2 separate regions of the Homo sapiens genome follow, and region 2 is linked to region 1. Evidence: fine-mapped expression QTL. Tissue or cell type: lung. Region 1 holds a variant in brackets; the other region holds the start of a gene. All regions are shown on one strand. Distances are between the middles of the regions.

What was found. PIP is the estimated chance that this variant, and not a neighbour inherited with it, causes the effect.
Region 2: it holds the start of PTGR1, and the variant in region 1 is fine-mapped to the expression of PTGR1 in lung (TOPMed, PIP 0.92).

The regions. Positions count from the first base shown.
Region 1 is chr9:111,561,423-111,569,422 of GRCh38, forward strand. PTGR1 (prostaglandin reductase 1) reads right to left here. Exons shown (of 10, transcript NM_001146108.2): 10 at 1,145-1,809. The coding sequence ends at 1,699. It also overlaps a transcript of ZNF483 not described here. Among named protein-coding and RNA genes, the nearest start is that of PTGR1, 34 kb to the right of the region's middle. The variant T/A (reference allele first, on the strand shown) is at 4,786.
Region 2 is chr9:111,595,644-111,603,771 of GRCh38, forward strand. It overlaps PTGR1 (prostaglandin reductase 1), which reads right to left and starts at 4,004. Exons shown (of 10, transcript NM_001146108.2): 1 at 3,960-4,004; 2 at 1,674-1,789. The coding sequence starts at 1,779. It also overlaps the pseudogene LRRC37A5P. RefSeq lists an enhancer at 3,855-4,427.

The sequences.
Region 1 (8,000 bases):
ACACCATGCCCAGCTAATTTGAAAATTTTTTGCAGATGTGGGGTATTGTCCAGTCTGGTCTCAAACTCCTGGACTCAAATGATCTCACCTTAGCCTCCCAAAGAGCTGGGATTACAGGTGTGAGCCACTATGCCTGGCCCTTCAGTAATGTTTTAAGTTTTTCTTCATATAAATCTTGCACATTTTTGTAGATGTATAGACATTCCTGTGTGTTATCTTTTGTGCAGCTCTGTGAATGACAGATTCCTTCTTTGGTGTGTTGAATAATTAGACTCATCTGTAGAGGACCAGTATGGACTGGCCCTAAGACCCCTATATGCCTGCAGTGATTATTTCTTCTGGCATAATCACAAGCAATAGGGGTGGTAATCTTAAGACTTCAAAATCACTGATATCGGCAGGGAGGTAGCTAACACTTACCTAATATATGCCAGGCATTATGCTGTTGTTTTTTTGTTTTGTTTTGTTTTGTTTTTTTCTGAGATGGAGTTTTGCTCTTGTTGCCCAGGCTGGAGTGCAATGGCACAATATCGGCTCACTGCAACGTCTGCCTCCTGGGCTCAAGCGATTTTCCTGCCTCAGCCTCTTGAGTAGCTGGGATTACAGGCACCCGCTACCATGCCCAGCTAATTTTTGTATTTTTAGTAGAGACAGGGTCTTGCCATGTTGGCCAGGCTGGTCTTGAACTCCTGACCTCGCCTCCGCCTCCAAAAGTGCTGGGATTACAAACGTGAGCCACCGCGCCCGGCCTATGCTGGTGTTTTAAATAAATGTATAACATGTATATGAAAGATGTTATTATCCTCACTTTAAAGATGAAAAATCAGAAGTCTAAGGTCACAGAAGCAGTAAACTTTTTTTTTTTTTTTTTGAGATAGAGTCTCGCTCTGTCACCCAGGCTGGAGTACAGTGGCGCAATCTCAGCTCACTGAAACTTCCGCCTCCCAGGTTCAAGTGAGTCTCCTGTCTCAGCCTCCCAAGAGGCTGGGATTACAGGCATGTGCCACCACACTCAGCTAATTTTTGTATTTTCAGTAGAGACGGTGTTTCACCATGTTGGTCAGGCTGGTCTTGCACTGCTGACCTCGTGATCTGCCCACCTCAGCCTCCCAAAGTGCTGGAATTACAGGCATGAGCCACCACGCCCGGCTAACTTTTTTTTTTAATTTAATTTTATTTTATTTTCAGTTCCGGGATAATTGTGTGGAATGTGCAGGTTTGTTACATAGGTAAACGTGTGCCATGATGGTTTGCTTCACCTGTCAACCCATCACCTAGGTATTAGCCCCCGAAGGCATTAGCTATTTATCCTGATGCTCTCCCTCCCTCACCCCGGCTTCCACAGGCCCCAGCGTGTGTTGTTCCCCTCCCTATGTCCATGTGTTCTCATTGTTCAGCTCCCACTTATGAATGAAAACATACAGTGTTTGGAAAATTTTCACACTTCAAAGCCATTATTTTCTACCACAACTCAGAAGAAGCTGTAGTGAACAGTGAGGTGACTGGTTGTTGTTGACTTTGAAACTTCCATCCTCCATCACTAATTACATACCACTTAAATGTATTTTATTAAGTAGCTCAAACTCATTATGAGTACTATTTCTTAAGACATTTAAGGTAGTATACATTTTTGCTAAATGGTGAAAAACAAATTAACTAATCATCTAAATGGCCTCCAGATTCCATGTGTCCTCTTTTTCATGCTTTCACTATTGTCTTCCCCAAATTATCTCCTTTCAGCATTCCCATAAATGCAGCTGGCATGTTTTCAAATCCTTCAATGATATATTCCTTGTACTGGATTTTACCCTGTATCAAAGCAACAACAAATTTTAAAACTTAATTTAATATTCTCAATGATATACTGTTCTCATCCTAGCAACAAATTTATCAGGTACATCATTGGAAACCTTGAAAATAAGAGATGGAAGTCCTGTCCTCCATGAACTTGAAGTCAAGGTGGGGCAAGATCCACTTACACAGTACATGTAAAAAAGATTACAAAGTACACCTAAGAAGAAATAATAGGTGTCGGATCATAGTGCGAAATGTCATAAGGCAGTGATTAAGCAATCTCTTTTTCTTTCTTTTTTTTTTTTTTGAGACAGAGTCTCGCTCTGTTGCCCAGGCTGGAGTGCAGTGCCGCGATCTTGGCTCACTGCAAGCTCCGCCTCCCAGGTTCATGCCATTCTCCTGCCTCAGCCTCCCGACTAGCTGGGACTACAGGTGCTCACCACCATGCCCGGCTAATTGTTTTGTATTTTTAGTAGGGACAGGGCTTCACCGTGTTAGCCAGGATGGTCTCGATCTCCTGACCTCGTGATCTGCCTGCCTCGGCCTCCCAAAGTGCTGGGATTACAGGCGTGAGCCACCGTGCCCAGAGCGATTAAGCAATTTCTAAATAAGATGCATAGTAAAGTTTAATAACACAATGATCTCAGAGGAGGTACAAATAGACAGAGAAAAGAGCACCCTTCATTACCTCTGGCCCCTGAAGAGGCAGGTCCTATTCAGGAAATATAAATGGCAGGACAGTCTAATAATCTGTCTCCCCTTTAAGCCAAGGTTCTTTTAACATGTGTTTAACCTTTATCTGGGAGTGTGGGAAGGAAGGGTTCATGTTAGTGAGAAAGGGTCTTCATTTCTCTTTCTCCTACAAGGCACAGCCTACTAATGGGAACTAATTTACATTTTCAGATTTTTTTAAGGGGTCTTATATAGAGACCTGAGTTACCTGATACAAGTTTTTCGCTAATGTATTCCAGTGATGGCTTAGCACTCTTCATGGATTTATAGACAAGATTATTTGCTTGAAGTCAGTCAATTACAAAGTAGGGAAGCTGAAATTTAAACTTTTATTATTATTATTATTATTATTATTATTATTATTATTATTATTCTGAGACAGGGTCTCACTCTGTCACCTAGGTTTGAGTGCAGTGGCACAATCATAGCTCACTGCAGTCTCAACCTCCTGGGCTCCAGTGATCCTTCTGCCTCAGCCTCCTGAGTAGCTGGGACTACAGGGATGTGCCACCATGCCCAGCTAATTTTTTTAGTTTTTGTAGAGACGGGGTCTTGCTAGGTTGCCCAGGTTGGTCTCAAAGGCCTAGGCTCAAGTGATCCGCCCACCTCAGCCTCCCAAAGTGCTAGGATTACAGGCATGAGCCACTGCGCCTGGCTGAGATTTGAACTTTTGACTTGAAAGCCCCAACTCATTCTTATTCTTGAAGAAGCAAGGAATCTGGATAGGGTGGAAAGGTAGAATCCAGTTCAGAGGTTATAAATAGAGAACGAATACTGTTATGGACTGAATTGTATGCCCCCAATCCAAATCCATATGTTTAAGTCCTAATCACCAGTGCCTGACAATGGGACTATATTTGGAGATAGGGCTTTTTAAAAAAAGGTAATTAAGAGGCCGGGCGCAGTGGCTCATGTCTGTAATCCCAGCACTTTGGGAGGCTGAGGCGGGTGGATCACCCGAGGTCAGGAGTTCGAGACCAGCCTGGCCAACATGGTGAAACCCTGTCTCTACTAAAAATACGAAAATTAGCCAGGCGTGGTGGCGTGTACCTGTAATCCCAGCTAGTCAGGAGGCTGAGGCAGAAGAATCACATGAACCCGGCAGGCGGAGGTTGCAGTGAACGGAGATCGCACCATTGCACCCCAGCCTGGGCAACAAGAGCAAAACTCCATCTCAAAAAAAAAAGTACTTAAGGTAAAACAAAGTCACACAGGTGGGCCTTAATCAATATGACTGGTGTGCTTATAAGGAGGTTAGGACATAGACACACAGAGAGAAGGCCACGTGAAGATGCAGGGAAAAGGAAGCCATCTACAAGTTGAAAAGAGAGAGGCCTGCAAAGAAACAACCCTGCTGACACCTTGATCTTAGACTTCTAGCCTCCAGAACTGTGAGAAAATAAGTTTGTTGTTTAAGCCACCCAGTCTGTGGTACTTTATTTTGGTAGACCTAACAAACTAATACAAATACTAATGTAAAATGTTAATAATAGGGGAAATTAGGGTATAGGATGCAGGGTATATGGGAGCTCTCTGTACTATCTTCCCAATTTTCCTATAAATCTAAAACTTCTATTTTTATTTTTGTTTTTGAGACAGGGTCTTGCTCTATTGCCAAGGCTGGAGGACAGTGGCACATTCAGAGTTCACTGCAGCCCTTGAACTCTTGGACTCAGGTGATCCTCCCACCTCAGCCTCCCGAGTAGCTGGGACTACAGGTGTGCACCACTGCACCCAGCTAATTTTTTAACTTTTTGTTTTTTGTAGAGTCTCATTATGTTGCCAGGGCTGGTCTTGGACTCCTGGGCTCAAGCAGTCCTCCTGCCTCACCCTCCTAAAGTGCTGGGATTATAGCTATGAGCCACCGCACCCAGCCTAAAACTTTTCTAAAATAAAAAGTGAATTTTAAAAAATAGGGAATGAGATTAAAAAGGGAGTATGTGAAAGAAATTAGGCCAACTCACGACTTAAAACCCACTAGGGCTGGGCGCGGTGGCTCACACGTATAATTCGAGCACTTTGTGAGGCTGAGGCAGGAGAATCACTTGAGGTCAGGAGTTCAAGACAAGCCTGGCCAACATCGTGAAACCCCATCTCTACTAAAAATAGCCGAGAATGGTGGCGGGCACCTGTAATCCCAGCTACTTGGGAGGCTGAAGTGGGAGAATCACTCGAACCCAGGAAGTAGAGGTTGCAGTGAGCTGAGATCGCGCCACTGCACTCCAGCCTGGACGACAGAGTGAGCCTCCATGTCAAAAA[T/A]AAATAAATAAATAAATAAATAAACACCTAACTAACTATGATCAGCTTCACTTTGTTAGAGGGAAGCACTGGGGACACCAGCACAGTGGTTTCCTGTTGTCAACTGTGATCACAGATGGGTTACATTAGATTTCACCAACTGGGACAACTTAGATTCAGCTCCCTGGTGACAGCCCAGCCCGGCACTGCAAGTGCTATACTGGGAAGAGTGCCAAGCTCCAGTGGCTGCTGGAGGAGCAATCTATTCTTTGGAATTGGGAAATGATCATTGGCCAGGGATTAGGAAACATGATGTCATTTTTCCCCTGTAAAACTAAAATAATGCAACTTGATTGTTCAGATTTCTGTTGACTAAAACTTACATGGTGTAAGGTTTGAAAATTATCACAGCACAGGACTAAGGGATTGTCTTATTTGCTACTTGGGACCTGGAAGAGCTGTGGCACATGTATGCACCCCTCTAACATTCATTTATTCAGCAATATTTATTCAGTGCCTACATTGCTTCATATACTATTCTGGGGGCTGGAGATACACCAGAAAGCAAAATGTATGAATATGCTGTCTTCATGGAGGTTACATCCTCAAGAAGGGAGATGTGCAATAAATATAAATGAATAAGTAAATTATAGTATATATTATGTTAAAAGATGATTAATTGCTATGGATAAAAGTAGGATAGGAGCCTGGGCAACATGGTGAAAGCCCTTCTCTACGAAAAACACAAAAAAACTAGCCAGGTGTGGTGGCACATGACTGTTGTCCCAGCTACTCAGGAGGTTGAGGTGGGAGAATCCCCTGAGCCTGGGTCAAGGCTGTGGTGAGCCATGATCACGGCACTGCACTCCAGCCTGGGTGTCTGAGACCCTGTCTCAAAAAAAAAAAACAAAAAAAGTCGGGGGGCGTGGGATATGGAGGATCAAGAATGAAGAGGGAATGCAACTTAAAATAGGGCCATTTAAAAACTTGCCTCACCTGGAAGGCACTTTTTGTTTTTTTGAGATGGAGTTGTACTCTGTCACTGTGCTGGAGTGCAGTGGCACGATCTTGACTCACTGCAACCTCCGCCTCCCAGGTTCAAGCGATTCTCCTGCCTCAGCCTCCCAAGTAGCTGGGACTATAGGTGCACGCCACCATGCCCAGCTAATTTTTGTATTTTTAGTAGAGACAGGGTTTCACCATGTTGGTCAGATGGTCTCGATCTCTTGACCTTGTGATCCACCTGCCTTGGCCTCCCAAAGTGCTGGGATTACAAGTGTGAACCACCGTGCCAGTCCAGACGGCACTTTTTAGCAAAGGCTTGCAGGACGTGAGAGAATTCAGCAAGCAGTTACAGAGGGGTGGAGGAGACTGGGCCAAGTAAATAAGAGGATGAATACTAAGAAATGAAATCAGAGAGATATCAGGGGTCAGATTTTGTGTAAGCTTACTGAATATTAGCACTTTGGTTTACTTTAAGTGAAATGCAGAGCTTTGCATGGTTTGGATCATAAGAACGGCAGGATTTGATTTGTGCCTTAACAGATCGCTATGGCCACCACATTGGGAATTGTCTATAGGGATGCAAAGATGGGAGGCCAGGTAGAGTCCACTACTGTTGCGGGAAGTCAGGGACCCCAAACGGAGGGACTGGCTGGAGCCATGGCAGAGGAACATAAATTGTGAAGATTTCATTTTAATATGGACATTTATCAGTTCCCAAATTAATACTTTTATAATTTCTTACGCCTGTCTTACTTTAATCTCTTAATCCTGTTATCTTTGTAAGCTGAGGATGTATGTCACCTCAGGACCACTGTGATAATTGTGTTAACTGTACAAATTGATTGTAAAACATGTATTTGAACAATATGAAATCAGTGCATCTTGAAAAAGAACAGAATAACAGCGATTTTCAGGGAACAAGGGAAGACAACCATAAGGTCTAACTGCCTGCGGGGTTGGGAAAAACACAGCCATATTTTTCTTGTTGCAGAGAGCCTATAAATGGATGTGCAAGTAGGGAAGATATTGCTAAATTCTTTTCCTAGCAAGGAATATTAATAATTAATATCCTGGGGAAGGAATGCATTCCTGGGGGAGGTCTATAAATGGCTGCTCTGGGAGTGTCTGTCTTATGCATTTGAGATAAGCACTGAAATACGCCCTGATCTCCTGCAGTACCCTCAGGCTTATTAGGGTGGGGGAAAAACTCCGCCCTGGTAAATTTGTGGTCAGACTGGTTCTCTGCTTTCGAACCCTGTTTTCTGTTGTTGAAGATGTTTATCAAGACAATATGTGCACAGTGAACATAGACCCTTATCAGTAATTCTGATTTTGCCCTTGTCCTGTTTCCTCAGAAGCATGTGATCTTTGTTCTGCCTTTTGCCCTTTGAAGCATGTGATCTTTGTGACCTACTCCCTGTTCGTACACCCCCTCCCCTTTTAAAATCCTTAATAAAAACTTGCTGGTTTTGTGGCTCAGGTGGGTATCACGGTCCTACTGATATGTGGTGTCGCCCCCAGCAGCCCAGCTGTAAAATTCCTCTCTTTGTACTCTTTCTCTTTATTTCTCAGCCAGCCAACACTTATGAAAAATAGAAAGAACCTATGTTGAAATATTGGGGGCAGGTTCCCCCGATACACTACAAGCATCCAGGCTAGAAGGCATGGTGCCTGGACCAGGGTGGTAGCAGGGAGGTGGGAGAAGTGTTCAGATTCTGTATATATTTTGAAGATAGAACCACCAGAATCTCCTTAGAGATTAGACATGGGTACGACAGAAAGACATCAAAGATGACCAAGGCTTTTGGATTGAGAAACTAGAAGTATAGAATTGTTATAACTGAGATAGTAAAGTCTGAATATGGAGCATGTTGAGCAGGAAAGATCAAAATATATTTAGTTTTCAAGATGTTATGTCAGAGATGTGTATCAGGCATCCAGGTGGACATACTAGCCTAGAGTTAAGAGGAGAGCCAGGCTGGAGATAGAGATGGGAACTCCCAGCATACTGAGCCCAGACGAGCTAACTAAGGGATAGCTCAAGCGTAGATAGAGAAGAGCAAAGTCCCAGTGACCATGACCTGGGGCACTCTAATATTAATTTGGAGTAAAGAAAAGCTAGCAAGAGTCTGAGGAGGACCAATCAGTGAGGAAAACCAAGAGTTAAGGGAAGCCAAGGGAAGAAAGCATATCAAGGAGAGAATGATCACTATGAAATATTTCCCATAGCC
Region 2 (8,128 bases), 34 kb after region 1:
TTTTTTTTGAGATGGAGTCTTGCTCTGTCGCCCAGGCTGGAGTGCAGTGGCGCGATCTTGGCTCACTGCAATCTCCACCTCCCGGGTTCATGCTATTCTCCTGCCTCAGCCTCCCAAATAGCTGGGAGTACAGGTGCTCACCACCACACCCAGCTAATTTTTTGTATTTTTAGTAGAGATGGGGTTTCACTGTGTTAGCCAGGATGGTCTCGATCTCCTGACCTTGTGATCTGCCTGCCTCAGCCTCCCAAAGTTCTGGGATTACAGGTGTGAGCCGCCACACCCAGCCGAGACTCATCTTATAGTCTGAACTCTTCGTATAGCTACTGGGCAGTGCTTACCTCACTGCCATCATCAGGCTTATGAGGATAGAGAGGACATCCTCCCCATAGTCTGGTCAAAGCCATGAAGAGTAATGCACTCAAGCATGAATTTCAGTTATCAATGAAAGCAGGGGAATCCTGCCATGTGACATCGAGGATTCACACTGAGAACCCTGGAAAGGTCTTTGTGGCAGATTGCAAAATGGCCACAAATAACTCCCACCCTTGTGTGCTTGTCTCCTTGCCACTTCTCCCATCAAGAAATCTATTTTCTGCCTCTCGAATCTGAGCTTGGTTTTGTGATTTGCTTTGACCATGGGATATTAGCAAACGTGGCACAAGTAGAGGCTTGAAAAGGGCTTGCACAGCGGGGCATGGTGGCTCACACCTTTAATCCCAGCACTTTGGGAGGTCAAGGCGGGCTGATCATCTAAGGTCAGGAGTTCAAGACCAGCCTGGCAAAGATGGGAAACCCCGTCTCTACTAAAAATGCAAACATTAAGGCCGGGCACTGTGGCTCACGCCTGTAATCCCAGCACTTTGGGAGGCCGAGGCAGGTGGATCACCTGAAGTCAGGAGTTCGAGACCAGCCTGGCCAACACAGTGAAACTCCATCTCTACTAAAAATACAAAAAAAAAAAAAAATTAGCCGGGCGTGTTGGTGGGCGCCTGTAATCCCAGCTACTCAGGTGGCTGAGGCAGGGAGAATTGCTTGAACCTGGGAGGCAAAGGTTGCAGTGAGCCGAGATTGCTCCACTGCAATCCAGCCTGGGTGACAGAGCAAGACTCCATCTCAGAAAAAATACAAAAATTAGGGGGGCATGGTGGCGCACACCTGTAATCCCAGCTACTCAGGAGGCTGAGGCAAGAGAATCGCTTGGACCCAGAAGGCAGAGGTTGCAGTGAGCCAAAATCATGCCACTGCACTCCAACCTGGGCAACAGAGCAAGACTCTGTCTCAAAAAAAAAAAAAAAAAAAAAAGAGAAAGTGCTTGCACATTGGAGCTTGCCAACTACTGCTGCTCTAGATCTATGGGGCCACTATAAGAATAGAGCTCAAGCTAGCCTGCTAGAAAGGCCACATAGATGAGAACTAAGGCATGCACCCCAACAGAAAGCCTGCTAATCAGCAGACATGTGAGCAAGGCCCATCCTAAATTAACCATTTACCCCAGATGAGACCTAAGAAGAACCACCCAGCTTAACTCAGCCCAAATTGCCAACCCAAAGAATTGTGAACTAATAAACCGTTGTTGCTTAAAGTCACTAAACTTTGGGGTAGTTTGTTATGCAGCAAAAGCTAACTGATACAGTCCCTTCCAACTCTGAAATATTTTTAGTATGACTTACCTCCATTTTTTAAGGGTGGGAGCTCAGCTGTCTTCAACTCAAAGTCACTATTAGTAGGATAGCCAACAAAGTGCTTCTTCAGGGTCCATGTCTTAGTACGAACCATCCTGAAGCTCCTAGAACACAGTAAATATGTAGTCAACTGCCATGAAGTGACTGCATTCTAACAGTTCTCTAGCCGTCAAACTGAGACCAGACAGCACAATTACAATATCCTCAAATCCCATCATTATCATATCATGCCAACCACATTCATTTAACATTTACTATGTTTCTGGTGCTGTGCTAAGCACTTCATATAGATTACCTCATTTTATCCTTATAACTTCCCTATAAGATAGACATTAGTATCATTGCCAGTGTACGGATGAGGAAACTGAGGTTTAAAGAAATCTTCAAGACAAGGAAAAAATATAAAACAACAAAGAAATTCTTCCCAGCCACTGCTAGGCTAGAGTTTCTCTACGGCACTGAACAGTTACCGGAAGTGCGAATATTCCATTCCGTTTCTCATCTCACATGGAGTGAATTCTAAGAAAAAGCATCAAACACAAAGAACCCAATAGATAGAAGTCCATGCACCTCTTTCAGATGGAAACAGCCACGCATTTCAAGGCAGTCTCAGAACTCCTGAAAACCACCGGAGGGCGCCGCTGCTCCGCCCCATTTTCAGGTGCGTTTTTTTTTTTTTTAAATACTTTTTTTTCTCTCTTTTCTTGTAGAGAGGAGCCTCACTGTGTTGCCTAGGCGATCCGCCCGCCTCGGTCTCCCAAAGTGCTGGGATTACAGGTGTGAACCACTTGCACTCAGCCATCGGGTGCGAATTTTCTTTGGCCCAGTAGGGATTTGAGTTTAAACTCCACACCAAACCGATTTTGAGCTGAAACGCTGCACCAAAGCAAGGGAAGATGATGAAGGCTGCCCCGAGCTGGGGGTTCAGGATGTTCTGCTTGGACTGAACTCTGCCGAATCACTTGGGACCTGCGCCTTCCCGCGGGTGCATCCGCTACAAACAATCCAGTTACGAAACCATTTGGAGCTGCCAGTGATCTCCCCAGCTCCCCTACCGGTGCCGCGGGAGGGGACACGGTGACCTGGAGGGAGCACTCCCGCATTGCGAGGGAGCCAGGGGGGCGGTCTGATCTGCAGCCCGGGGTTGTTCCTTCTTTTCTTTTTTTAAAATTAAGACTTTTTTTGTGACGGAGTCTCGCTCTGTCGCCCAGGCTGAAGTGCAATGGCGCGATCTCAGCTCACTGCAACCTCCGTCTCCCGGGTTCAAGCGGTTCTCCTGTCTCAGCCTCCTGAGTAGCTGGGATTACAGGCGCCCGCCACCACGCCCAGCTAATTTTTGTACTTTTAGTAGAGACGGGGTTTCCCCATGTTGGCCAGACTGGTCTAGAACTCCTGAGCTCAAATGATTCGCCCGCCTCGACCTTCCATAGTGCTGGGATTACAGGCGTGAGCCACCGCGCCAGGCCCTACGTATCATTTTTACGGTGAGACATTTGCAGTTTACTCTGTTATTTCGAAATACACATTATTGGCTCTAGTCACTCTGCTGTGCAACAGATCTCAGAACCTACTCCTCTCGTCTCTGAACTTCGTACCCTTTGGCCAACAAGCCCCCATTCCCCCCCGAACCCGCTCCCAGCCTCTGGCAACCATCATTCTAGTCGTTATTTCTATGAGTTCAACTTCTTTAGAGTTCACACATCTTTGTCCCTTTCCCCAAAAAAGCAACCGCTGGGCTTCCAAACTCGCTACAAGTCCAGAAGCCCTCCTGGAAAGGGTCTGGCCGCAGAGGGGCCAGGTCCCGGGAAAGTCTCGCCCGCCCGAGGAGGGGGCCTGGCGCGGCGCCCGGCCTTTGCCCGCTCGCCCTTTGCTCCCACCCTCGCCTCCCGCCGCCCGCCGCCCGCTTGCCCATTCCCGAATCCCCACCCCGATCTTTCTTCTTCTACCCTCCCCCAGTTGTGCAGTCCAGCAAGTTCCCTGGCCAGCCCCCTCCCGGGTGCAGGAAGCTACCGGGTGTCCCGGGTTGTAACCAAGCTTTCCTATTCCCTCCGGCGCGCGGCTCCAAGCTCTCCAAGGAACTGCGGGGGCGGGAGGCGTCGGGACGTCGGCTCCCAAGATCCTCCGAGTGCAAGACCCAGCGGTCATTTCGACGTAAGGGGAGGAGGTCTAAGAGCAAACCTCCTCCACTGGGGCGTCTAGAAACTTGGCAGGAAGAAAGCAAGGGGGTTAGAGGAGGGAGAAAAGGGAAGGAAAGAAAGCAGGAGGTCTACTTACAGGAGCCCGAAGGTTCCACTGCCTGGGGAAGGCGGCTGGGACTGCGCAGCCGGGCGCCCGGGGTCCGACTTATGACAGGTCCCAAGAGAGGGTGGGGCCACCCCAGGGCGGGGCTGCTTCTTTAGGGTGAGAGCCCGGCCCCGAAAGGGTCACAGGAGGAAAACCAGGGTCCGGGAAATCTGAGTGCGTTTGTGTGTGTGTGTGCGCGTATCTCTGTGTGCCTATGTGCATGTGCGCGCGCGTATGTGTGCATGTGTGCGTGTGTGTGCGTGCGCGCCCGCGCGCCCGTGTGTGTGCGTGTAGGGGGTTAGGGACTCCTGATAGGAAAATTCCTAACAGAGCTTTGTCCAGCTGACACTGGACCTCCGCCTGGGGTCCTAAGTTGGAGCCCGGCGGAAATATGCCCCGTGGGGGAACCAACCGTGGCATCTGCCAAGCAGGCCGGAAGGGTCCAAAGGCAGGGCCTGGGGCGGCCGCAGCCCTAATAAGCCCCCGGTGCTGGCTCCGATCCCTGGGCTCCCCGTCAGCCCTGCCGCTTGCCCGCAGTGCAAGCTTTCGCCCAGGGCTGCGGTGCAGACACCCTGCCTGTCTGTCCCCAGTCCGCCTGCTGAACACCTACTCGCCTTCCACCAGCCAATTCAAGGTCACCTCTGTGAACCCTTGCCAGACTCCCCCAGGCAGGAGTGAGCACTCTTGCCACTGAGGCACCCCACCCATCACACCCTAGCAAACATCAGGCCTTGACCTGGCTTCTGCAAGGAGAGGTGGTCTCAGGCAGGGGTTGAACGTGAAGCTAAGTCGTTGGTATTAGACGACTGCAGGTTCGAAGCCTGCACCTGCCACTTACTAGTGGTGTAGCTTTCAAAGACTTACTTACCTTCTCCTTGCCTCACTCAGTTCAGCCATCTGCAAGATGGGGATAAGAAGAATGCCTAACTTCCAGTCATTGTGAAGATTCAATGTCTTTAATTTATTTATTTAATTTTAATTATTTTGAGGTCTTGCTCTGTCACCCAGGCTGGAGTGCAATGGTGGGCATCATAGCTCATTGCAGCCTTGAACTCCTGGACTCAGGTGATCCTCCTTCAGCCTCCCTAGAAGCTGGGATTACAGGCCCACCACCACACCTGGCTCAATGTCTCTCCTTGTAAGGATACCCGCCATATTGGATTAGAGCCCCACTTGTCAGCCTCCGTTTAACTTAAACACGTCTTTGAAGGCCTTGTCTTCAAATACTGTCAAATGGATTAGGGCTCACTAATATGGCCTCATGTAACCTTAATTACCTCTTTAAAGGCCCTATCTACAAATACAGTTACATTCTGAGTACTGGGACTTGGGGATTTTAACACATGAAATTGGGGAAGACACAGTTCAGCCCATAACAGAGTGTGTGGACCAAGCGTGGTGGACGCATGCCACAGGATATACACAGCATCAGAAGCACTGGGTTCCATGTACATAAAGCAACTTGGATGGACCCTAAAAACACAATGCCGAGAGTTGAATTCTTCACACTAATCAGAGTTGGTGGCACTTTATCCCCACTGGTCTGCCAAATTCTTTCTTTCTCACTCTCTCCCTTCTCATTAATTTATGTAACTTAATATAAAACAAAACTCCATTCCCAGGCTGGGTGCTGTGGCTCATGCCTGTAATCCTAGCACTTTTGGAGTCTGAGACAAAAGGACCACTTGAGGCCAAGCATTCAAGACTTGCGTGGGCAACATAGCTTTAACCTGGGAGGTGGAGGCTGCAGCGAGCTGCGATCGTGGCACTGCACTCTAGACTGGGTGTCTAAGTGAGATCCCGTCTCAAAAGAAAACCAAAAAAACTCAATTTCCTGCTTTTCTCCTCCTACTATAGGTAACTACTGTGATGTATTTGATTTGCATACAGTTTTTTTTTCCATGTTCTTACATAATGTGCACTGTGGTCATATACATTTAATTTATAGAAACGGTATTGGGTTACATATCGCATTCTGCTTCTCTCTTTTTTTTTTCTTTTAAGATAACTTGTTACAGAATCACTGTTTCTTTTGGATATTAGAAGTGTTAATAAAATTGCAGGCATAAAAAGTCTTTGCAAAGTAAGAATAAGAGAAAAAAGTGCCAGAAACACAGAGTGGCTCACATATTTACTCACTTGTCCTTAAATTGAAGATACAGATAAGATTGGGCCGCACCAGGTCAAACAAAATCTGTTTCCCAAACTTGATGACTCAGTCAGTCTCAAAGGCTGCAGCTTGTCAAGTCATGGTGATTAAGTTAAATCACGGCTGTTACATACTCGCACACAGAGAGTTAGAATATGGAATAAAGGATCAAGGAAAAAGATTTTCCTTTGCTTTACCCCAAGACAAAACTCTACTCAATTCAGTTCTCTGATCTTAGGTTTCAATGAGTTCTGATCTAACTGTGGAGGGAACAGTTCACTTAAAACAATAAAGCAGTAACAAACAAGTAATTAAAAAATGCTTTTTTATCAAATAATTCAGATGATACAGATGTGTACGCTATAAAAAGCAAAAGTCATTGTTATCTGTTTGGTGGAAATTTCTTTTGGATTTTTTTTTTGTACTTCAAAAACAGACAGACTTAGTCAGGGGTGGTGGCTCATGCCTATAATCCCAGCACTTTGGGAGGCCAAGGCGGGTGGATCACTTGATGTCAGAAGTTCGAGACCAGCCTGGCCAACATGGTGAAACCCCATCCCTACTAAAACTACAAAAATTAGCTGGGCATGGTGGCGGGCGTCTGTAGTCCCAGCTCCTTGGGAGGCTGAGGCTGGAGAATCACTTGAATACAGGAGGTGGAGGTTGCAGTGAGGCAAGATCATGCCACTGCACTCCAGCCTGGGCGACAGAGCAAGACTCTTTCTCAAAAACAAACAAACAAACAAACAAAAACAGACAGATTTGTCCCCCACTTTTTTCTCTACAACTTCCATTTCATTGGTCTGGTGGGATAATGCTTGAGAAATAATTATAACAACAAACAGTAATATTTGTCTCATAATTGCAGGAATTCCTGAATATATGTGGGACACTGCGTTTGAAGAGATAGTGATTATCCTCTCTGCACAGCACAGAGGAGATGCAATCTTGCACTAGAATAGCCCTTGGTATCCAGTATTTCTAGTCCTCATGATGACCCAAGGAGGGGTCATCAACAGGTTTGCATGCCCACTGCATAGTATAGACCAATTACACTAAGACAGCAGGGATGCAGCAAAGAAAGAGTTTAATGATCACAGGCCACCCAGCAAGGAAGTGGAAGGAAACCCTCAAATCTGTCTCCCAAGAAGTTCTGGCCTGGGGCTTTAAGAGGATTGTGGAGAGTGAGGGGCTGGAAAATTGGGGTTGCTGGTCGGTTGGGGCAAGGGGGATAAAATCATCGCAAAGTGGAAACTGTATTTTTTGATGAGGTAGCTCCTCGGGGAGTCCTTCAGGACAGCTGCATCAGTGTGGTCCTTCAGCTGACATCAGTAGTTTCTTCCATATCAGGACCTGAAGGAATATCTCAAAGTGAAAACAACATTTCATAATGTTCGAGTTGCTATTTAAAGAGCAGTTAAGGTGAACTATAATCTTGTAACTGGGTCTAGTGATTCTAGAACAATAGGCACCAAAGTGTGAGGAAGCAGATGGGAGAGTGTGCCGAGTTAATCATGAATGCTGAACCTGCTGCCAGCTTGGTTTGTTTTTGTTTCTCCCTCCCTCCCTTCTTTCCTGATTAATTTTATGTATTTTTTGAGATGGAGTCTTGCTCTGTCTCCCAGGCTGGGGTGCAGTGGCATGATTTTGGCTCACTGCAACCTCTACCTCCCGGGTTCAAGGAATTCTCCTGTCTCAGCCTCCTGAGTAGCTGGGCCTACAGGCACACACCACCACGCCAGGCTAATTTTTGTATTTTTAGTAGAGACAGAGTTTCACTATATTGGTCAGGCTGGTCGTGAACTCCTGACCTCAGGTGATCCACCCGCCTCAGCCTCCCAAAGTCCTGGGATTACAGGTGTGAGCCACCGTGCCCGGCCTAATTTTATAAAGTTTATAGGGGCAGTTTCAGAAGCAAATATTACCATCATCTTCCTTGGAGCCTCAGGAAACTGAAAGTCTGAGAGGTAAAACAACGTAGACAAGATCACATAGCTAGTCAGTAGCAGGG